Homo sapiens: one gene and its partners. The protein of the gene in region 3 purifies or fractionates together with the protein of the main gene of each other region. This does not show direct contact. Each region holds a gene or a part of one and is shown on either strand. Other genes may lie near its edges. The genes, in order: FAT3, PASK, FBXO10 and ANGEL1.

Evidence for each region.
Region 1: the proteins of FBXO10 (region 3) and FAT3 purify together in Homo sapiens (affinity purification with mass spectrometry; one large-scale study listed by BioGRID and IntAct). This does not show direct contact.
Region 2: the proteins of FBXO10 (region 3) and PASK purify together in Homo sapiens (affinity purification with mass spectrometry; one large-scale study listed by BioGRID and IntAct). This does not show direct contact.
Region 4: the proteins of FBXO10 (region 3) and ANGEL1 purify together in Homo sapiens (affinity purification with mass spectrometry; one large-scale study listed by BioGRID and IntAct). This does not show direct contact.

Annotation. Positions count from the first base shown.
Region 1 is NC_000011.10:92,793,716-92,799,654, reverse strand, and holds part of FAT3 (protocadherin Fat 3 isoform 1 precursor), read right to left. Parts: intron 1,820-5,939; coding exon 1-1,819.
Region 2 is NC_000002.12:241,137,907-241,143,845, reverse strand, and holds part of PASK (PAS domain-containing serine/threonine-protein kinase), read left to right. Parts: intron 1-771; coding exon of another isoform or gene 772-813; coding exon 814-1,009; intron 1,010-3,092; coding exon 3,093-3,325; intron 3,326-3,790; coding exon 3,791-3,961; intron 3,962-5,051; coding exon 5,052-5,192; intron 5,193-5,758; coding exon 5,759-5,893; intron 5,894-5,939. UniProt on the Homo sapiens protein: Serine/threonine-protein kinase involved in energy homeostasis and protein translation. Phosphorylates EEF1A1, GYS1, PDX1 and RPS6.
Region 3 is NC_000009.12:37,519,632-37,525,570, forward strand, and holds part of FBXO10 (F-box only protein 10), read right to left. Parts: intron 5,542-5,939; coding exon 5,471-5,541; intron 3,347-5,470; coding exon 3,194-3,346; intron 2,858-3,193; coding exon of another isoform or gene 2,826-2,857; exon of another isoform or gene 2,715-2,825; intron 2,208-2,714; coding exon 1,938-2,207; intron 1-1,937. UniProt on the Homo sapiens protein: Substrate-recognition component of the SCF (SKP1-CUL1-F-box protein)-type E3 ubiquitin ligase complex. Mediates the ubiquitination and degradation of BCL2, an antiapoptotic protein, thereby playing a role in apoptosis by controlling the stability of BCL2.
Region 4 is NC_000014.9:76,805,044-76,810,982, forward strand, and holds part of ANGEL1 (protein angel homolog 1), read right to left. Parts: intron 4,601-5,939; coding exon 4,016-4,600; intron 3,106-4,015; coding exon 2,879-3,105; intron 2,460-2,878; coding exon 2,390-2,459; intron 1,807-2,389; coding exon 1,373-1,806; intron 1-1,372.

The DNA of each region.
Region 1 (5,939 bases), on a different chromosome or scaffold from region 3:
TCTGGACTGGTGGCATTGATGCTTAGGATGGGTGTGTTCATTCTGATGTCTTCATTGACAGATGCTGTATAAAAGGGCTTATCAAACACAGGCATTGCTTTGTTGACAATAGTGATGGGAAGCTCCACAGATGTAGACAAAGAAGGTTTTCCGCCATCCTTGGCTAGGATGGTGACTCCATACTCAATGTTGGACAAGTCAGAGTTGAATGCTTCCTTTAAAATAACATTCCCTGAATTAGGGTTAATTTCAAAGTGGCCATAGTCATCCTGCAGGACATAGGTCACTTCTCCATTTGGACCTTTATCTTTGTCAATGGCTGTCACCTGATAAATCAGAGTCCCGGGTTCCGCATCCACTTGAACAGCAGCATAGTATGGGAGGCCCACAAAGACTGGAGAATTGTCATTTATGTCTTCAATGTTAACCCTGACCACCACTCTGGCCACACGCAGATGGTCCAGCTCACGGCTGGCTTCTACCACCAGCTCATATAACTCTTGTTCTTCACGGTCAAAGGGGACTCCAGTCGTCTGAATGACCCCTGAGGTAGATTTTATCTTGAACTTATTTCCTGGGTTTAAGATGCTGTATTTTAAGGGCTCATTAAGGCGATTTCCAACTGCATTGACAATAGCAACTTTGGTTATGTTAGTGTTGTTCTCTGAGATTGAGGTGGAATAGAAGCTTTGTGTAAAGTGGAGGCCGCTGTCCATGGCTTCTTTAACCATGATGGTGACCATGGAGGTACTGTAGAACTTTCCATCAGACACCTTAACTATCAGCATGTAGTGATCCTTGGAGAGGTTGTTGTTTTTTATGGTAAGTACTCCACTGTTTGAGTCAATTAAAAAATGATCCAAACTGCCTTCCATTAGGCTGTATGTCAGTTCAGGGGGTACCTCAGAGTCAGGATCTGTGGCACTAACTTTCAGAACCTCCACTCCAACATAGGTAGGTAGAAGTAAGATAGTCTCAAACACAGCCTGAGTAAAAACAGGTGGGTTATCATTCACATCTGTCACCTCAATGTTGACTTCAACGGGACTCTCTGCAGTCAGTTGGGGGCTACCACTGTCTCTCACATGCACATGAAAATGGAAATGGGCAATGGTTTCATGGTCCAGGTTGGCAATTGTTCTGATTGCACCTGTACTGGAGTCCACCGTGAAAAACTTTTTTGCTGTTGACTCCACAATCTGATACACAAGCAGAGCATTCCGGTTGCTGTCAGCATCTGTGGCTCGAATCACCAGTGGGCTGTTATCCAAGCTCCTGACAATGCTATTAATTGGGGCAGCCTCACTTAGGCTGCCTGAGTATTGAGAAAAGAGAAAAACTGGGGCATTATCATTTTCATCAACAATCTGAATATTGACTGTAGCATTGGAAGCCATTCCTGCCATATTGGTGGCCTGAATGATGAGTTGATAAGAGGATGTGCGCTCATAATCCAGGGCCTTCTGAGTGGTGATGACTCCAGAATATGGATTTATGGTAAAGATCCCATTAATGTCTCCATCTTTGACTTCATAAATGAGGGTAGATTGACTGATGGCAGAGATTAGAATGACTGATGTTCCAATGTCAACATTTTCATTTACTTCTGCTTGGTAGTCTTTGTGAATGAACTTGGGGTGAGAATTGTCAGACATGGTGACGGAAATGCGCACAATTGCAGTAGCAGACATTGGCGGGGATCCCTGATCTGTGACTTTGATGGATAGGACAAACTGACCCATCGTCGTCATGTCTGGTTCTTTGCAAATGGTGATGATGCCTAGGACCGGTTCGATCTTAAACATGTTCCCAGTGTTCCCTAAAATACAGAAATCAATGGTGAAATGAGTTACATGTGGGTCACTGAAATCTTTTTGATTAACTCTTTATCTATAGGTACCTTACTGCAATGTGGCAAGTAGAAAGCAATTATAGTACTCATCTGTGTCATTCTGAAATAAAATGAGAGGCTTCTCTTTCAGGGGTACTGAAAAGGAACCAAAATGAGTTTCCCAGTATTATAGTAAATTTCAGATCAGTAACTTCTAGATCCAGGTTAAAAACACAATGACAATGACACAGTCTTATGTGCATTCAAGTTGGGAAATAAGAGAGCCCGAAGGAGAGATCTTTCTGCTAAGAATGTATAGGACTTCCTTATTTCCAGCCTTGTGAGAAGACAGATAGATTGGGAAGCCCACATATGAATGCCACTGGTTTAGGTAGCAGTGTCATATTTTCTGTTCTAGGTTTAAAGAAAGAGGGTTGTGGGAATAGTTTCAGAGCATTATAAAGTAGTCAGTTGTTTTCTGATTATCCCAAAAGCAAACTTCGCTACATGGAATTGGTATTATTTCACCCTATCAAAAATGACTTTATCCAAAACACTACTTTGGTGAAGGGGTTTGTTCAGTCAGGTGTGGAGAATTCTTGGCAAGTCATTATTTGCCTTGTAAGTGTGATGAATTTTCCTGACTTCTCTTCTATTCTCCACTCATGCTCTACCCCTCTCTCATGCTTCTGAACACACACATGCACACATCTAGACATAAAAGTAAACATAAAAAGTTATAGGGCAGTTGCTCAATCTGTAACCATTCTATTCACCAAGCATTTGAGGTGTTTCTAGTGTACCAAGAAACTGTTGGGAATCTGAACCAGCACTGCAACCAAGAACCTGAGACATAATCCTTGTGAAACTGAAACCTGGGCACCCCACTTTGATAGAGCTGGCAGGGGAAGGGCTCTGGCCATGACACTGTAGTAGTTTACAGCTCTGCTTCAGAAACATGTTGTGGTTCGAAATCTGGGATTGTTGAGAATGAGAGAAATAACAGAGGAATAAAAAATGGGGAAGACACAATGTGGAGTATGTAAAGAAGGTAGGTGGTGACAGAGCTGAAAGGCAGTGGGTAGTGTGAAGTTGCATCCCTCACCAAGTTGCTTTTTGCTTCTCTTATCAGGCTTTCTCATACTTCTCAAAGAACACATATACTTCTGTGTTGAGATCCTTTCCAATCAAAAGTTAAAGATCTTGGTTATTCAACTCTATCTGGACTTTTCTTTCTGAGTATTGTAGTATGATAGGTATATAATTTAAATGTTAAAATCATTAAAATAGGGACCAGGATTTTCAGGGCAGTTATGAGATGTGTCTACATACCTCTTCCTACATGCTAATTATATAAAGTTTTCCATGTCTGAACACAAAATGGTCATGTTCATGTAACATCTATTTCAAGAAGATACTTGCTTATTTTAAAAGACAAAGTATATCTAATAAAGAGGTCATTTTGATTCCAGCCCCCCCAAATGTGAATATTAAACAATGTTGTCTTTGATGTCGGCATGATTTATTACTTTGCCACCTAAACATGGCCATTTTGTGATGACAATAATAAAAAGTTCAATGATCTTATGAGTAAACGTTCAAGCTTGCAATGAATAGTGTCATAGAATTGAGTGTGAATCCAACAGGTGATCCACAGAACTTTATAAGGGGAAATCACTTCACCTAAGCAATGGTCACCTTCCAGTGATGGCACCAACATGCAACCCTGACTGATGAATGCTACTGGAGCCAGGGATCTCGGTGTTCACTGATTATGGTGCCCGACTGCAGAGTTTCTAGGTAAGTCCTCCCTCACTCCACACCCGGCAGATTTCTTCATGCCCAGAAAGATAGATTATGGTGGGGATGGCAGGGAGCCAGCTTTTGACCTCAAATATAATTTTTTGTTTTTTTTTGAGATGGAGTCTCGCTCTGTCATCCAGGCTGGAGTGCAGTGGTGCAATCTTGGCTCACTGCAACCTCTGTCTCCTGGGTTCAGGTGATTCTCCTGCCTCAGCCTCCAGAGTAGCTGGGACTGCAGGCAGGCACCACTACACCTGGCTAATTTTCATGTTTGTAGAGACGGGGTTTTGCCACGTTGGTCAGGCTGGTCTCAGACTTCTGACCTCAAGTGATCCACCTGCCTTGGCCTCCAAAAATGCTGGGATTACAGGCACGAGCCACTGTGCCTGGCCTCAAGTAGAAATTCATAATCCTGCTATCCCATGGCCGCTGATCTGCTTGTGACACGCTTCCAGAATGGTGTGCTGATACATCAGGTCCAAAGTGGGCCCTTCTCCTCTTTCCCTCTTTGACACACTGACCCATTCTCTTGGAATCCACTTCCTGCTTATTCTTTCCTGCTACACTTGAATCCTGAAAAATTGGCCTCTGTTTGTTTTTTGGAATCTATGGCCTCTTGTAGATTTTTGGCAATTGAATAAAAGCTGTGCTTTTCTTATCATTCCTTATCTAGTACACAACACAGCATCTGCTACAAAGAAGTTGCTTAATATTTGTTGAATGATTGAGAGGAGAGGTAAATCTAAAAAAAATATTTTAAACTCTCTATTCATATGCATCTTGGGATCCATATGCCCTCACCCGAACTCAACTCAGTCCCAGTCTCTCTTGTACAATCCTGCCTCAGACTCACCATTGACACCAAACACAAAACTCAAACTAGATATAAGACCTGAAGCTCTGCACTCAAATTCTGCCTCAGTCCTTCAGGCCAAAATAAAAAGCTTCCGTAGTTACTTTAGAGGACAGGCAGGAGACAGGAAATTTATAGCCCACCAATAAACAGAGTGAAATCTTGCTTATCTGATGTGTGTGAGAAAAGTTAAATAAAACATAATACTTTACACAGCCATTTGTCATTTGCTTCAAAGTGCTGAAGCATCTGGGATCTGCCTGTCTCCCACCCTCAACTGGGAAGAAACTTGCTCCTCTAGGACCAGTGCGGACCAGTGTGGGTTTGTCTGTCTGTCTGTGAAGAGCCCTGCTGGTCATTTGAGATTTATTGTGAACATTGTAATCCTCAATAGTTTCTTACATACAATCAAAGGTCATTTTTTTTGCGATATCAATTGTTCCCATGGTTTTCTGGAAGTTTGGGTTTTCTTTATGAAAGATGTTTTAAGGAAATAACTGTTCTGTCTTGTTTTAGTCAGTTAAAGAAACGACTGGGCACCATGCTGTAGTCTGTAGAGGTCAAAAGATAAGCAGAGCAGTCTTTTCGGTTGGATGGTAAGTTAAATTACTCCTTAAGAAACTCCAAACTGGTTGAAACATTATCTGGCTATCTAAAAGGAGTATAAGTAGCAGGCTTAATGACAAATATAAAAAGCAGGTAGAGACACACAGCTAATGTTTAGAACATGGTAAGAAAAGTAGAAATAAAACCCTATATCTAAATAATTACAGTGACATGAAACAATGTATATGCATGAATGAATACGGGGAAAAGAAAAAAACACAACATTGGAAAAAACCATAGAAAGAATAAAAAGAGTTGTTGGGTTAGGTGACATTTTCTGGGATGTGATTTAAATATTCATTTTTTGGAAAAGTTTCCTTATATTATTTGTGGAACCCAAAGAACAAAGATTATATAATTAAGTAATAAAAATGTCCTGTGAAAAATAAAAGATGTAAAATAGCATTTCTAAAAAAACACTGGTCAGGCTTTAGATTGAAAGGAAATTCCATGGAAACCTAGAAAAAAAATAGGTAAATTCTCTCCGGAAACTTTGCTATTATGAACTCATGTCTTTTCTTTTTCTTTTTTTAAGTAGAGCTTAGCACAGACCCATGTAAAATGTGGGTGCCTAATACAAGAAATAGTTCTAAGTTATCATTCAATGAAAGAACTTTTTTTTTTTAGAAGGTTGTTGGCTTTTCTTTTTCTAAAATTTCTAGTCCAAAACTGTCATTCTAGCATTCATATTTTAATTCAACTCCTCTCAAAAATGCTCTACATTTAAATGAAAGGAGAGAAGTCTTTCCATCCCTGGCATGAAAGGATATTGCATTTGGCATTATTCACGACAGACATAAGTTGCAGAACATTTTGAAAATAGGTGGCTTGAATATTCAAAAAAGA
Region 2 (5,939 bases), on a different chromosome or scaffold from region 3:
CCCGCGACCTCACTTGTTGGCAGCACCCAGGTGATTCTGTGCACAGCTGGTCGGATGGTCAGGACTCACTGTTTAGGGGAAAGCTGAGACCATGGGAGCTGTGCAGCCCCCACGTGCTGATGGGTTCATCATGACCTGGGAGTATTTTCAGTTGGTGTGTACCTGCAGTCCCTGCCTTCCCTCATGGCTCCTTCCCACCCTGTTCTTTGTTTTCCTCTCTCTCTCCTTCCCTCTTTCCCATATCTTCCTATGTATTTTTCTTGGAAAGAGCTTCTTTTTTTTTTTCTTTTTTTTTGACATGGAGTCTCTCTCTATCGCCCAGGCTGGAGTGCAGTGGTGTGATCTCGGCTCACTGCAAGCTCTGCCTCCCGGGTTCACACCATTCTTCTGCCTCAGCCTCCCGAGTAGCTGGGACTACAGGCACCCGCCACCATGCCCGGCTAATTTTTTGTATTTTTAGTGGAGACGGAGTTTCACAGTGTTAGTCAGGATGGTCTCGATCTCCTCGATCTCCTGACCTCGTGATCCGCCCTCCTCAGCCTCCCAAAGTGCTGGGATGACAGGCGTGCGCCACCGTGCCTGGCCCGGAAAGAGCTTCTTTTAGCACCACTTTGGGTGGACCATTCTCCCATTGCGGGTTCTGACCCAGGATGGCGGTTGGTGGTGTATGTCTTTTGGGGCCGAGCTGAACTCAGCATTATAAATTAGTTGGTTAAACTGTCTTTGTGTTTTTGCATTGCAGATGTTAATCAGCTTCATGTTGTTTTCTAGTTGTTAGAGTTGGAAGCTTGGCAGTTGGCCTCCCTTCTTCCCATGGAGGACGGGGGCTTAACAGCCTTTGAAGAGGACCAGAGATGCCTTTCCCAGAGCCTCCCCTTGCCAGTGTCAGCAGAGGGCCCAGCTGCACAGACCACTGCTGAGCCCAGCAGGTCGTTTTCCTCAGCCCACAGACACCTGAGCAGAAGGAATGGGCTTTCCAGACTCTGCCAGAGCAGGACAGCGCTCTCTGGTAATGACCTTCGACCACTGCAGGCCTTAGCGCGTGGAAATACAAATGTGGAGTTGCTCTGTGTTCTCATGGAAACCCTCTCACCAGGGATTGAAGTCACTCTATTCCTGCAGAGAAAAGTTCGTGGTTTAAGTGCTCGGCTCATGCTGGCAGATGACTCCGGCAGGACCCTTCCTGCTGCTTTTACTCTGCTGTGATTCCCAGGCAGCTGGCGCTTCTTTTCAGGCAGCAGGTGGAACTCACCTTCACATTTCAGGGTCAAGTTACAACAAAATGTTATTTCTTACTTTAGAGTATGTGAGAACGCTGTTCTAGGTTAGGCTATTTTACTTAGGGAATTGCAGCTTTGCTCGTGCAGTTTACTGAGCTAAACGCGGTTTAGCTGGTGGACCAAGAATCATGGGGCAGAAGTCTGTTGGTGCCTCCTATGTCCAGATTCCGTTGGTGCCTCCTTTGTCCAGGCACCCCAAAGGACTGGGCCATGGTGAGGAAGGAAGCGTCACTTGCCTTTCAGGGGCTGTCTGATGGAGGCACTTGGGGAGACAGCAGGCTGTGTGCTTGAAGTTGGGGTAGACCTGGAAAATGGGGAAGTGGGGCATAGAGCTGCGGGAAATGGTGGCTGGGAGTCTGGTCTCCAGGTCAAGGAGCACTTCGACACTGGAGTAGGAGGGTGTTGGAGCTGAGCTTGTGCACTGGAGTGTCTGAGGGTGTAGAGCGGAGGGCCCTGTGGAGAGTGCCCAGGATACTGCAGGGAGGGGTGGGCTGGGAGGCACACAGCGCCCTTGGGAGTGGGCTTCACCCAGGCGCTGATCAGGAATGTTCTCAGTGAGTGTTGACAGGTGTGTTCCTTTTTTGGAGCATCATTCTGGTGGCTGCATGAGGAGCAGGGGTGGGAGCCGGAGGTACAGGGCCTTGAGACATGAGAAGGAGCTGCGCTTGGTGACTGCTGTCTGGGGAAGAGCAGGGGCGAGAGTGGCTGGATGGCCACGTGGTTTCCAGCCTCAGAGAATGGTCGGGGTCAGGCCACTCACTGAGAAAGTCAGGGGTCCTGGCTGGAGGACATGGAGGGGAGGGGATGGGAGAGAAATGGAAGGGTCAGGTCTTGAGTGCTTGGTTTTGAGCACTGGAAGAATGTATCTGGTGTCTCCAGAGATGGGGAAGCAGGCGAGTGGGCCGTGGGAGGTCCAGGCTGGAGGTGCGAGTGTGAGAGTCTTCAGTGCATTTCTAATTAGATGTATTTAAAGCTACCGAGGAATGGGTGAGATGGAGCCAGGGTCACTGAGAGGTGGGAGGTGGGGGAGCCCAGGTGCCCGAGGAGGGTGGTGTGGGAGGAGGGTGAGGCCTGAGGAATGACGGGGCTGAGGGTTTTGGGAGCCATTGGAGGCGTTGCTGAGAGAACGCTGCACAAGGAGCTCTTGAATCGTAGGAACGCTTCCAAGGAGGAGGTGACGGGGCAGCCACCGGAGTGGCCATGGGGTCTTGGAATGACTGACAGAGGACAGAAGGTGGGAAGGAAGGAACCTTTGAGTGTAATTAAGCTTTTTTGTTTTTTGGGACAAGGTCTGACTGTTGCTCAGGCTGGAGTGCAGTGGCGCAGTCATAGCTCGCTGCAGTCTCAAACTCCTGGGCTCAGGCAATCCTCCTGCCTTAGCCTCCTGAGTAGATGGGGCTGCAAGGGCACGCCACTATGCCCAACTGATTTTTACAAATTTTATTTTTAGTAGGGACAGGGTCTCGCTGTGTTGTCCAGGCTGGTCTTGAACTCCTGAACTCAAGCAACCTTCCTGCCTCAGCCTTCCAAAGAACTGGGATTATAGGCACGCCTGGCTTTGAGTGTAATTTAGACACAGAAGTGTTGATCTTATGCTGTTTGTGCTTCCGAGTGGACCTGGTGGTTGCCTAAGTGGATTCTGGGGACCATGTTCAGACACGCAGTGAGAGTGTGTGTTAGCTGTGCAGACTGACTTAATCCTTAGATCTTTTTGCAGGAGTTGAGGGCAAGGGCTGTGTGCTTTGCCTGTTTCAGAAGGTGGACTCTGGCAGCTGTGTGAAGTCTAAAGCTTCGCTTCGCTTCTCTTTTCAGAAGACAGATGGAGCTCCTATTGTCTATCATCACTGGCTGCCCAGAATATTTGTACAAGTAAACTGCACTGCCCTGCTGCCCCTGAGCACACGGACCCGTCCGAACCGCGGGGCAGTGTGTCCTGCTGCTCCCTGCTGCGGGGACTGTCCTCAGGGTGGTCCTCACCTCTGCTTCCGGCCCCTGTGTGCAACCCTAACAAGGCCATCTTCACGGTGGATGCCAAGACCACAGAGGTATTTGCTTCTCTTTTAGATCCAGCTGTGTAGATGTGGATTTGTGGTTTGTGCCTTAAACCTGGGATTTGTGTGTTTTAATGCAATTAGAAAAACATTTGGGCACTTCGGGAGGTGGGAAGTTTGCTTGAGCCCAGGAGTTCAAGACCAGCCTGGGCAACATAGCAAGATCCCATCTCTACAAAGAAATTAGCCAGGTGCGGTGGCACACACCTGTAGTCCCAGCTACCAGGGAGGCTGAGGCAGGAGGATCACTTGAACCCAGGAGTTCAAGGTTGCAGTGAGCTCTGATTGCGCCGCTGCAGTGAGCTCTGATTGCGCCACTGCACTCCAGCCTGGGCAACAGAGTGAGACCCTGTCTGTCAGGAAAAGGCTGGCTTCTGCATGGTCGTCCTGGGCTGTTCTGGGCAGCTGGTGGAGCTGCTGGGGATGTCTGCATCCTTGCTCCTCTTTGTGATTCCTCAGATCCTGGTTGCTAACGACAAAGCTTGCGGGCTCCTGGGGTACAGCAGCCAGGACCTGATTGGCCAGAAGCTCACGCAGTTCTTTCTGAGGTCAGATTCTGATGTGGTGGAGGCCCTCAGCGAGGAGCACATGGAGGCCGACGGCCACGCTGCGGTGGTGTTTGGCACGGTGGTGAGTGGATGCGGGTGCAGCGTTCAGTCTGGCCTCAAGACCAGCAGTGTGTGGCAGGAACAGCTCAGTGTTCCCTACCAGGAGCTCTGCTGGGGGTTGGGTGGCACCAGGACATCTCAGCTTCTTCAGCTGAAAATGTCATCCCAGGCGCCGTTTCCCCGCTTCAGCTGCAGTGGGGGTGGGGGCCCTTTAAGAACGAATCATCGCAGGAATGGACACTGTGGCTGTGGCTGGACTCCTGGGAGGTGTCGTGGGTGGCCCTTGCTTTGTCTGAGGGCTGTAGCTTCACTAATGTTTTGCAGTCCTGCCGGGCAGCACATCAGATGCTCAAGAGTAATATGGTTTTATTGTCTATTGATTTTTACATTCTGTTTGGTGTTTGTGGGAGCGGGCGGGGGTGTTGGCCTGGAAGCATTTCCCTAGACAGTGTTGATTCTCTCACCTGTGCCATGTGTCCAACCTGGATGTTGACAGGTGAGCTGAGTTGGATGTGGAGGACTGAGCCCAAGGCATGGAAAAAGCCCAAGGCATGGCTGATTGTAGGGTTTCCCCTCGTCAGCCGGTCGGGGACTGGGGGAGTAGCGTTGGAGGGCAGTGGAGGTTGGGGTATGATCTGAGGCTCTAGTAGTCATCCAGATCCTCCAGGTTGCCTGTTTCCCACCTAGTGTGTGGCTTTCACACAGAAGACCCCATTGCTTGAACTGAACTGATGTCACAGGCTTAGGACCAATTGTATCAGAAAATCACTGGTTCAAGAAACTGACTACTAAGAAGAAAAAAACTAAGATATTCACCATGTGTTGGTGTCTGTTTCTTTAAGAAATAACAGATACTGCTTTTTTCACCCTGCAATATTACCATGAACTGAGAATGAAATCTACTCTCTTGATAAAACTTGCACTTGGAGATTTTAATGTTCAGTATGGGAAATCTTGTTTGTGCTTTGGTAAATTTCTGAAATGAAAATCAGGTAAGCAGAAGTTGAAAACGTTGCAGTGCCTGGAGTTTGGGCCTCCTGGAGGCAGGTGCCCCACCCATACTGGTCTTTTGGGTTCATGGCATGCAGGTGTGAACCTGTCTGTTTCCACAGGTGGACATCATCAGCCGTAGTGGGGAGAAGATTCCAGTGTCTGTGTGGATGAAGAGGATGCGGCAGGAGCGCCGCCTATGCTGCGTGGTGGTCCTGGAGCCCGTGGAGAGGGTCTCGACCTGGGTCGCTTTCCAGAGCGATGTGAGTGTGCAACTTTGCCTCATGTCTCATGGACGCTGGAGCCGGCGTCGTTCTCCTCTTCAGCAAGTGCTGGTCCCTGTCTCATTCCTTTGGGAAGAAAGAGAGGATGAGGAGCCTGGAGGGTCTGCCCAGTGGTACCCTCGCTGATTGCGTGTGCTTGGGCAGGGAACGAACTTCCTATACTTCAGTTCCTCACCTGTGAACTGGGGCATAATCATAACTCCTCATAAGATTGTTTCAACATTTAAATGAGATAATATATGTAAACCCCCCAGGATAGTAGCTGGCATTAGAGACAGCCCTCATATGTGAACTGGGATGTTATTAATGAGCTGTGGTGTGGGCCAGGCTCCTGAAGAACAAGAAGGCCCACAATTTAGGTACGTCTCTGGTAGAAGGAGACAGATGATGAAGCTCTTATCAAATTCATGTGTATATGTCTCTTGCCCTTCCGATGGAGAAGTCATGTTGGGGTCTTGCTTTTGGCTTGAACATATTGAAGCTTAGTTAAATTTACAGCTGGAGCACAAGAAGCTTTTATGATAAGCACGGGGCTTTTCCTCCAGGGCACCGTCACGTCATGTGACAGTCTCTTTGCTCATCTTCACGGGTACGTGTCTGGGGAGGACGTGGCTGGGCAGCATATCACAGACCTGATCCCTTCTGTGCAGCTCCCTCCTTCTGGCCAGCACATCCCAAAGGTAGGGCTCCTGACCTCCCGCACTGTGTGATGGGGTGGAGTTCTTA
Region 3 (5,939 bases):
TATTTGTGAACGTAGGTGGCTTTGCCTGTCGTACCGGACAGACAGCATGGCCACATGGAGGAACCTCTGACCTGGGAGGAGACAGAACTCATTTTCTGAATAAGTGGGTTGGGGCTGCTGGTTATCCATCTCCCTGTCCTCTACCACTACCAGAAGCAAGTGCTTACCAGGCCCAGGAATCTCTTTTAATTTTATTTTGTTTTAGAGACAGGGTCTTGCTCTATTGCCCAGGCAGTAGTGCAGTGGCACCATCATAGCTCACTGCAACCTCGAACTCTGAGTCCTGAGCTCAAGCATCCTCCTACTTCAGCCTCCCTAGTAGTTGGAACTACAGGCATGTACCACCATGCCCAGCTAATCTGAAAAAAATTTTTTTTTTCTCAGTAGAGATTGAGGTCTCTCTATGTTGCCTAGTCTGGTCTTGAACTCCTAAACTCAAGCGATCCTCCTGCCTTGGCCTCTCAAAGTGTTAGGGTTACAGGTGTGAGCCACTGCGCCTGGCCCAGGAATCTGTTCTGAATAAGCCTTCCTCCATTTCCCGACCCACCCATCCATCCTACCCTCCCACCCCCACCCCACAGTGATTTTGATAATCAGGAGGCTTTGGGAGCCCTGGAGTTAGGTGAACTACACAGTAATTATTTTTTTTTAATTCAAGAAATATCAAACATCTTCTACCATCTTTTTTTTTTTTTTTTTTTTCCTTTTAAGACAGGGTCTTGCTCCTGTCACTCCTGAGCTCTGAGCACCTAGAATACCGTGGTGCAATCACACCTCACTGCAGCCTTGAACTCCTGGGCTCAAGCGATCCCCCCGCCTCCTGAGTAGCTGGGACCACAGGCACATGCCACCAGATCCAACTAATTTTTCTTTCTCTACTCCTTCTTCTTCTTTTTTTTTTTTTTTTTTTTTTGTAGAAACCAAGTCTTGTTATGTTGCCCAGGCGGGTCTTGAACACCTGGCCTCAAGCAATCCCCCAGTCTTGGCCTCCCAAAGTCCTGGGATTACAGGCTTGATCCCTGGCACCTGGCCTCCATTTTTCATCAGGTTTAGGATAACATGGATTTAAAACACTTTTATTTTCTGCCTCTCTAAGAAGGAAAACTCACTGCCAATTAAACCATGATATGCATCTCGTGGGAGATGTTGAATTTTGAGAAATGTATCCTAGAGTTGATTAAAAGCATGTGTGCCAGAGGTGGGATTTGGTACTGCAGGGACAGGGGCACTGAGCTGGGTGGGCTTCAGTTCTTTGTCTCAAGTTCATGGCCTATCAGTGTTGATGAAACAGCCACAGAAATAAATACAGTCGCGAGGCCTCATAACAAGTGCCAGTGGGGATGGGGAGGGCCCAGTTCAAAGGAGGAAGGAATGAAGGGGGATATTCACAACAGGTTTTGAAGTTCAAGTTAGTTTGGGACGTGTGGATGGGAGAAAGGCATGAGTGAGGTCAGCAGGTTAGGAGGCAGGAAAGAATGGATTCAAGTTTAATGAATAAATACAGGAGGATTGGGGATCAGGCTGGAAGAAGTGGCTGATGAGGCCTGAGGGCAAGTTGGGATCAGTCTGCAGAAGGCCCTGCCTGGCGGCCGCACCGTCTCAAAAATAAGAAGCACCTCTGCTCGGCCGCCCCACCGTCTGGGAAGTGAGGAGCACCTCTCCCTGGCCCCCACGCTGTCTGGGAAGTGAGGAGCGCCTCTCCCTGGCCCCCACACTGTCTGGGAAGTGAGGAGCGCCTCTGCCTGGCCGCTGTGCAACCCTCCAAGTGTGAAGTGGCAACCTTGTGTGTGATTTTTCTGCCCTACCCAGGTTTGCATCTTTGACATTAAAGTTTACTTTTAAATTTAAATTAAATTAAAAGTTTTAAATTGGAGAAAAAAAAAGACAGTGGGGAGCCATGGAAGGTTCTTGAGCAGGGGCTGAGGGGGTATACTCACCTCCATTGTGATTAATACTGTTAGACTCAACAAGAGCTATGGTGATGGGCCGGCGCAGTGGGTCGTCCTCCTTCTCCAGCTCTGTCTCCCAGAGGATGGCGTCCCCATCCTCGCTGAAGTTCTCTTGAGCCCTGTGGCCTCGAGGTAACTCGCTGGAGCCATCCTTCTGGCTAAATACTGCCACTCCATACAGGCCATTGTAGCTGACGTGGTTGCTGGTGACATGGGGGAGGCTGGACGACATCATCCACACACCACAGCCCTTGTTAGCTGGGACAGTGAGAGGAGCTGGTCACCGACACTGAACTCAGGTGAAGCGGCACCTGAGTCTCCCTGAGAGGGGAAACAAAAGCCACTGGCCTGGGAGAGAGTCCCTGCCTTGCTAATGACCTCGGACAAGCCACCTGATGGCTCTAGCTGCAGACTTCACCTTCACACAAGAGAGGTCATCAGGATCAGGTGAACCTCACAAGCTCGGCTCGTTCCACACAGTGTGAAAGTGCTCTGAGGACTGTCAGGCCACATGTCCACATCAGAAGCACATGAGCCCACAGTGACAGTGCCAAGGGGGCACCAATCCCTCCCTGCATAGGAGGCAGCCTCAGTTGGAATCCCAGCCCTACCACTTCCCAGCTGTGAGACCCTGAGCAGGTTACCAGACCTCTCTCTGTCCCTCAGTTTTCTCATCTTTTAAATGGGGTTAATAACCGTGCCTCCTTCAGAAGGCAGTCATGAGGATTAAATGTGATCATGCATAGAAAGGGCTGAGTAGAGAGGTGGGCCTGAGTCATCTTTATTATTATCACTGTATTATTAGAGATAGAGTCCAGACAGATGAAGGCTCTGCCCAAAGTCACTGCGTGAGTGAGAAGAGTTTTCTTCCTGTGATTATCTTGTTTTCCCATTATATTTTCCGTTCTCTGGGATCAAAAGAAAGGATAAGAGGAGTTAGATGCACATGAGCCAGGGCTGAAATGGTCCTGTCCTTAAGACATGACACAACTCCTGTCTTTTGCTATTTTAAAAGGGGATAAAGCCTTCTGCTTTGCTAACCCCACGGGGTCAATCTGGACTACAATGTGATTTGTAAGAGGCTCTTTGTTCTGGGAGGGCCTGGGTGACTGTGGCCTGAGAGTGCCTGTTCAGATGAGGTCTTTGAGGCACAGGGAAAGGCAGTGACCTTCTCAGGACCCACAAGCTGGAGATGGAACCTGGGCTTCCTGCCTCCCCGGCTGGGTTGGGAACAAGCTCCTCACCGTAGATGGTATTTCCTTCTATGAGGCCTTTGCCTTCGTCTCCCACAACCACACCATCTGAATAGCCAAAGCAGATGAGGTTACTCCTGAGAACGGGGATCCCTCCACGGCGGATGTCCACACCTCCCCACTGATTCTCACGGATGACATTTTCTATGGAGAGAAGCAGAAAAGAAGGTCAGTACCCAAGGGCCAGCTCCAGTGCTGGCAAATAGGACTTGGACAGTTTTGATCAAGGCTACTCCAGACCAGAAGGCCCTGGCCTTACCCTGCCAGCAATTAGCACTGTAAATCTTGTCTGCTGTCTGATGTTTCAGGGACTTATCTGCTGACTCCTTTCCCCAAGGGCAAGGCTTGTGTCTATCTTGTGCACTCCTATCTCCCCGGCACCTACTATACACCCAATGGCCTTGAGGACTGATGATTAAAAATGAACTAGTTTTGGCCAGGCATGGTGGCTCATGCCTGTAATCCCAGTACTTTAGGAGGCCAAGGCGGGTAGATCACTTGAGCCCAGGAGTTCCAGACCATCCTGGGCAAAATGGGGAAATCCTGTCTCTAAAAAAAAATACAAAAAAAATTAGCCAGGTGTGGTGGTGCGTGCCTGTAGTCCCAGCTTCTTGGGAGGCTGGGTGGGAGGATCACTTGAACCCTGGAGGTCAGGGCTGCAGTGGGCTATAATCGAGCCACTGCACTCTGGCCTGGATGACAGACTGAGACCCTGCCTCAAAAAAAAGAATAAACTAGCTTTGGTGAGTGACACTGGTGTCCAAAAAACCAACCAACCAAACAAAAAGGAAACAAAACAAAGAATAGGCCGGGTGCGGTGGCTCACGCCTGTAACCCCAGCACTTTGGGAGGCTGAGACGGGCGGATCACCTGAGGTCGGGAGTTCGAGACCAGCCTGACCAACATGGAGAAACCCCGTCTCTACTAAAAATACAAAATTGGGCGTGGTGGCACATGCCTGTAATCCCAGCTACTCGGGAGGCTGAGGCAGAAGAATCACTTGAACCTGGGAGGCGGAGGTTGCAGTGAGCCGAGATCGCGCCATTGCACTCCAGCCTGGGCAACAAGAGTGAGTGAAATTCCGTCTCAAAAAAAATAAATAAATAAACTGGCTTTAGAGTCCTCAGAGGCAGAATGTGGCCATTTACCCACAAGCCTGTGAGAAGGCGCTAGCCTCACCTGCAATGGCTCAGGAGTCTCTGTGTGACTGGCCTCTTCCTGTCTCCATGTCCCCACTGCAGGCCCCTTGTGCACCACACTCCAGTCCCACAAGCGATGTCCACTCGGCCATGCCAAGTCTGTTCTCACAGGCGGCCCTACACGGAAGGTTCTTTCCCAGCTCCTCCAGCCACTCCCACTCAGGGTCTGGTTTCCTTGTCACCTTCTCAGAGGGCTGCCCTGACCACACAATCCCAAATGCCTACCCAGTCCCTCTTTTGCCTTAATTATCCATAGAGCACTTGTCACCCTCAGATGGGATGTTTTTTGCTCATATACGTAGGCTTTTATTTATTTATTCGCTTCCTCTCCTAAAATGTCAGTGGCTGACAGCCTCGTTCACTGCTGCACTTGTAGCTCCTGGAACACGGCCTGTATACCACACGTGCTCAATCCATGTCTGATAAGTTCAGTCAGGGGGATTCCCTGGACCAGTATTTGCGGAATCCCTTTCATATCCCAGGCCTGGCTCTGCTCTGTGCTGAGGCTACATTGATGTACCAGATGGACTTGACCCTCACCTTGTGGAATTTACCACTTTATAACAGAGGAGACGGACACCACAAACCACTAAGAAATTAAGTCAAAGGCCCTAGAGAGGAGGCATCCTGGGTATAGTGAGTGTATCTGTGTACAATGGGGAAGTCAGGGAAGGCTTCCCTGAGGAAGTGACAGTTAAGCTAAGACCCAAAGGATAAGCAGGGGTTAGCCGGGCGGAGGTTTCCAGAGCAGGCAGAGGTCCGCACAAAGACCAAGAGGAGGGATTTGGACAGGTGGTTGGGCATCAGTGCTTCTGAAACTGTTCTGTGAGCCACCTTGTGAGGGCCTGTCGGCTCTGGGCCTGGAAGGAGCAGACACCCACTCTGTGTTAGGCCCTCCTGTAAGAAGCACAGCCACCATGCAGCTGGCGTCCCTGAGCTCCAGCCCACCAGTCAGAGAAAGAGGCCATAGTCTGTGGGGGTAAAGGAGCAGTGTGAGGTCCTGAAGCTGGGGGGTGACGCCAGGGGACCTTGGCCTGGCTGCCAGGTGCCAGGCAGTTCCCATCCGTACCTGTGATGAGGCCTTTGCCGTTCTCATTCACTGCTATGCCGGCAGCACGGCCCTTGAAGATGTGGTTCCCGCTAAAGTGGAAGGAAAACAAAACAAAGAGGTGAGCCCAGGGCATCAATGTCATGCTTCCAGGAGACTGCCTTCTTTCATGGAAACCCTGTCTCTACAAAAAATACAAAAAAATTAGCCGGGTGTGGTGGTGTGCACCTGTAGTCCCAGCTTCTTGGGAGGCTGGGGTGGAGGATCACTTGAGCCTCCCTATGGCTCAAGTCCACAGGGGCATAAAAGCATTTCCTAAAGTCCCTTTATAAGCCAGGCATATAGAAATGTTTAGTTGTCACTGGGACAGCTTGACCAAAAACTAAACCCCCAACTATGCTATACACGCACAATGATATCCAGTTCACTGTAGCCTCACTTGACTGTCATCTACATATATACCCATGCATATATATATACATTTTTTTTT
Region 4 (5,939 bases), on a different chromosome or scaffold from region 3:
TAAATAAATAAAATGGGATAATAATACCATGTACAATTAAGAATCTTAATAATCACTACCGGTTACTGACTTTGAGCCAGATACTGGAAAACACTTTACACGCATTATTTTATTTAATCCACCCAAAAAAACACCTCTGAGGCAGGTCCCATTATATCCCCCATCGTATAGATGAGGCAAATGGGGTTCAAAAAAGTTAAGTAATTTGCTCAAGGTGGCAGAGCACGGATCTGAACTCAGGACTGTCTGGCTTCAAAGCAAGTGCTCTCATTCACTATGCCTAACAGTGCCTGTCATGTGGCAGGCAGTCAGTAAATTCTTTTCCTCGTTCCCTGAGTTCCTTGATTACAGCTCCTTTAGGGCAAGATCATGCCTTTCTCTGCACACATCTGGCTCATTTACATAAAATCCCATGTGCGCAACAGTAATACAATCGTTTTGTGTCCTTCCACCATTGTGCCTTGCCAAAAGTTAGTCAATAAATTGAAACAGTAGGGGCAAAATAGAGGAACAAGGAGATTAAGTGACATAAAGAAATCAGCACAAGCTGATAAAACTACGAGGTGTTTGTCATCAACACTCAACAGTTAGAAGGAATGAGATCCATATGCAAATTGCTGAGTGAAAAAAAACAAGCTACAAATGAAACATACAGTAGTGTATCATGTTTATAAAACACACATGGTAGATTACATATTGGCTGTTATAAGCAATGACAGCACAGTATTTGAGGGTAAGAGCTCTGCAGCCAGACCACCTGGTTACAAATCCTGGCTCCACCACTAACTACCCGCATAACCTAGGGCAAATTACTTCACTTTTCTGAGCTTTAGTTTCCTCATTTATAAAATGGAAGCCATGATGGAAACTGTGAAAACTAATTAGTTAATGAGTATAAAGTGCTTAAAATAGCACATGGCACACACTTAAGTGCTTAACAAATGTAAACACTGATTACAATATCATAGGAACATAGATATCACTGTAAATGCAAAGAAAACAAGCTAAAAGACTACCACCAAACTTAGAACGGTCATTATGTTACTCTAAGAGAATAGAATAGGGAATGTGGGTAATAAAACAGGCCTGTGTCTTACTGTATAATGTTTAAGTTCCTTCAAGTATGTACTTACGTATTACTTGTGAATTAAAAATATTAATGATAAAAACTGAAAAAAATTCCAATATGCCGAAGTACTCAAGAATTCTTAACTTCCAGGCTTGGGTACAAGCTATTCAACATAACAAGAAAAAGGAGGAGCAGGCCAGAGCAGGTGTACTGAGGTCCCTGCCACAGAAGAAGCACTGATGCTAACGCCTGAATCTCTCTTAGACCATGTTCCCACCCACACCGTGGCCTCTCCCATTTCACCTTCCAGGCTGGCATCCCATGGTACTGGAGCTCTCCATCCCTGATGAAGTTGTAGAGAGGTGAATCAGGGACAGAATTTAGGTCCCCGCACAAGATGATGGGGCAGTGGCTGCCATCTGACAGTCTGGCCACCTTGTCCACTTCCGCCAGGAGAATGGCCATCTGGGCCAGCTTGACATCGCCCCGGCGTGGGTTGTAAAGGATATGGGTATTTGCCACACACAGCGGGGCCACCGAGACTTGTCCCAGGCCTTCTGGGACGAGTGGTTGCAGTAGCAACACTAAGCCCACATTATCCCGATTAAGTAGCTCCAAGCCAGGCCGGAAGTACTCCACAGGGCTAGCACAGAGCAGGCGGAATCTGGTAGGCTTGTAGCAGACAGCACAGCCATCGGTTTTACACCCAGTCCTCCTCTTGTAGAAACAGGTAAAGCCTGCAAGGAAAATCCCACCAAAGAGATGGGTCAGAGTCCTTAAAGCCTGAATCCCTTCCAACCAGCACCAGCAGTCCCAGTGTATGCCCCTGAGGCATTGTTCCTGCTACTCAGTAAAGGAGCCTTTGCCACTTCCTTGGTTCAGCAGGTTCCCCCTTACATCGTAACCAGCTGACTGAGGGGCTGGAAGGGCAAGGAGGGAAGGGTATGAAGCAATGTAACATGATAGAAAAGAGCACAGAATCTAGAGTCAGACAAGCTGGATTCCTAGCTCCACATCTACTAGCTTTGTAGCTTTGTGATTCTGAGGAAGTCACATGAGTTTTCAGAACTTCAGTTTCCTCATCTGTAAAATGGGAATAACAGTCTCACCACATTGGTTACTTCAAGGATCAAATAGCAATGTATGTCAGAATTGCTATAAAACTGCAGAATTCTACTTTCTCAGGCACACATGGAAGGAGCTAGCTCACAGGTGAAACTGAGGGTTTACTAAGACAAAAGGAAAGGATGGGGTCTTCAGGAGAGAGTAGACAAGTCTGTGGAAAGAAAAGCTGGCAAGCATCCCAGGGAGCTGCATTACCCATCATTCGCAGAGAGGGTTCCAGCTGCTCCCAGTAATGATCTTCCTGGACTTCCTGGAGACACAGGATCTGGGAAATTGACAAGAAACCCAATCACTCCAGAGTGCTGGAATGTGACCCCCACCCTCTAGGAGCAGGTCCTGAGGCCAGGTGGGAAGCTGCTGGGTCACACTGAAACTTCCCAGAGTCACCAACAGCAAGAACAGGCCCAGACTTAAGCTGAAGAGATTAGAGATGTGCACTGGATTTTCCTGCTCCTTGAATCCCTCAAGCCTCCCTTCCTGCATAAAGGTGCTGGGAAGTGCACATCTAGGGAGATTCTTCTCAGCATCTGCCAACAACTCACTGACACCAGGCAGGCAAGCTCCAGCCCTAGATAGGACTCCAATCATTTGAACAACTATGGGTTGAACTCATCTTCTAAGAGCACTGGGCAACAGCCCAGGTCCAGCAACAATGCAAGATGGCAATTCCCCCTCTTCACTCACATCAGGGTCCCAGTGCTGGAATTCCTGCATGAGGTTCACGAAGCGATAGTTCCAATTGAGGATGTCTGGATGGCAATGTAGATAGAGCTCTGAGCTCTGCTGCATCAGGTCCTGAGCCAGGATGTTATAAGACATCAGAGTGAACTGGAACTGAGGGCCATCTCCTGCCTTCAGGCCCTGAGCATCTGGCTGGGTGGAGAAATCCTCCCATTCTCGCCACAAAATTTCTGCAAAGGATTGGGAGAAGCACTCAATGGCAAGTATGAGTAATGCAGAGGTGCTGCCATCTCCACTCCTGACTCAGTAATATTATGCCTGAAGTTCCTTTTTCCATCTTCCCTGTCACCCATCCCTCTCTGTGGGGAATTGATTTCTATGGACATTCTTCAGATGACATGGTTAGCTCCACAAGGCCAGAGACAATCTTGGCCTGCTCACCACTACATCCCCAGCACCTAGCATCTAATAGATGCTCCATATATGGAAGCTGACACACTCTCATTTTTGATAAATCCATGAATCTCCGGAGAATCACTCAGATGAGTGTGCTTAACAGTCACCTGAGGTTAAAGACATTTTTAGAGTAATTGCAGCCCTGGGTGTTTTCTGACCCCTAAACCTGGAAGAGTCTGTGGGACTAGAAACTATGGTGTGTCCCCATCTCCCCTATGGCATGTGGCAGCATAGTGGATTTCAAATCTATTGACGCCATTCTTCAAATTTTAACGGACTCTCAATATACAACACAAATAAAACTGAGGTAATTGTGACTGAGACAGAGACTAGAGGCCCTGAGACCTCTCTATCCCTACCTCCAGAAAGCCCTAGGGTTACCACCAGAGAAATGACATTGTGGAGAATCAGAACTAGAGTATGCTTTCAGTTCTTCCCCTACCTGGCTTTATGACTTTAGTCATGTTCTACTACCTCTCTGCACTCTGATTATTTCACCTTTAAAACCATGGGGCTGGATGAGATGATCTGTAAGGACCCTCTAGATCTGACATGCCAAGATTCTTAGAAAAATAGAATGCAGTGGCAGAGCTCCCTACCATAGAATCTTCTCTTTAGCAATGGCTCTGCCCACACCTGAGACACCCTGTTCCCTTGGCTCACTCAACCAGTTGTCAGACTCACCATGATATGGTATTTCCACTGCGGGAGGCTGCAACTGCCCCAGGCCCTCAAAGGGCCAGATGGAAGCCTCTTCCTGGGGCACAGGCTCAGGTGCTATGCTCCAGGCCAACACCGCTGGGTCCTCTTCCCACTGCTCTGTGGCCAGGGCACCCACTGGGAGGGCAGCACAGTCTGCATACTGGGGCTCCGACTGCATGGGGATAGCTGCCCACATGGAGCCCTCCACCCCCTCCACCTCCAGCAGTGGCTCCTCTCCTAGCATCTCAGGGAAAGGCTCATCCAGGTTCTCTGCAGCCCGAAGGTCACTCAGCTGCCTGCTGGACCACCTGTCCTCTGAAGCAGCATTCTCTTCTCCAGGATTATCCATCAGAAGTGCCAGGCTGCTCTGGGCTAGTCCTTTATCTATAAGGGGCCCCTCACTTGCAGTTGAGAGCACCTGGCTCAACCCTTCTTCTCGCCACTGCTGCAGCAGGCCCTCACATTCCTCCTGCTCAGGGCCCCGAGGGGCCATGGCAAAGTCGCCCTCTACCTGGGGGGATGAGCTGTTCGCCAGAAGGACATTTTTTCGACATGTGAAGAAAGCATCTAGGAGGAAAGCCAAAATACCAGGTTATAAGACTGTCATCCAACCCACACTATTCTCCCAGCTAAAACATAAGCCCAATAAAAGCAAGACCCATATCCACCTTGCTCATCATTGTACCATCACTGAGCCTGCCTACCTTAATGCCTGAACATCATCATCATCATCAGGGCAAAGTATTCACTATGTGCCAGGCACTGTTCTTTACAAGTGTTGACTAATTTATATGGCAGGGATCTGATAAATATTCAGTGCATGAAAGAACAGCTGTCTCACATAATCTAGAACACAGATGGGCACATATACCCACACTCCTTTTACATGACTTAGTTAAGACTACTATTAACAAACTCTTTGGTTCTAAGAATCACATTACATTGCAACCAGCAACTGACTGTTAATCAGAACTGTGGGTTATGATCTAGCACCAAAATTAATAAAACTGACCTTGAACAATGCCCCTAGTCAGATGAAGTTACTCTTGACTGTAAAATGGGGACAAGAGGCCAGGCGTGGTGGCTCCCAGCACTTTGGGAGGCAGAGACAGAGGCAGCAGGATCACTTGAGGCCAGGAGTTAGAGACCAGCCTGGGCAACATAACGAAACTTCATCTCTACAAAAAATTAAAAATTAGCCAAGTACGGTGGCACATGCCCATGGTCCTAGCTACTTGGGAGGCTGAAATGAGAGGATTGCTTGAGCCCAGGTTGACGCTGCAGTGAGCTATGACTGCCCTTCTGCACTCCCGCCTGGGAGACAAAGTGAGACCTCATCTCAAAAAAAAAAAGAAAAGAAAAGAAAAAAATAAATTTTAAATTTAAAAAAATAGAGACAAGTTTGAACTAGATAATCTCTGAGCTTTTCTAGCTGTATAAATTCCCTAATCTATTAATGTATTCCAAAAGAAAAAGTCCTAAAGTAGACAGTCTCAAAAATCTATACAATTTACATCTTAGCAAGGGCCCTTAAGCCTTTTCTCAAAGCTACTTATTGTAATAAAATCTTCACAAACTTCATTATCTGCTTTCCCATTCCACAACACATCAGAGGCTATAAATTACAAGGTGCCAACAATCGACAGTAAGAGACAGCTGACATCTCTCTGATACTGCAGCCACCAATGACAGCCAACAGGCAAGAAAGAAAGTGGGAAAAACTCTAAAATTAGAGCCCCCAAACTCTGAGCACAGTATTTTGGTGAGAGCAAACAACTCCTACACTCACACACTCAACCATTTATTTACAGCACAGGACGAGTAACATGCACGATGCTGGCCCTCAATCACTAGACTCATTTTATTGGCAATTTTTTTTTAAAGGGAAGAAACCTTAAAAGTGGCT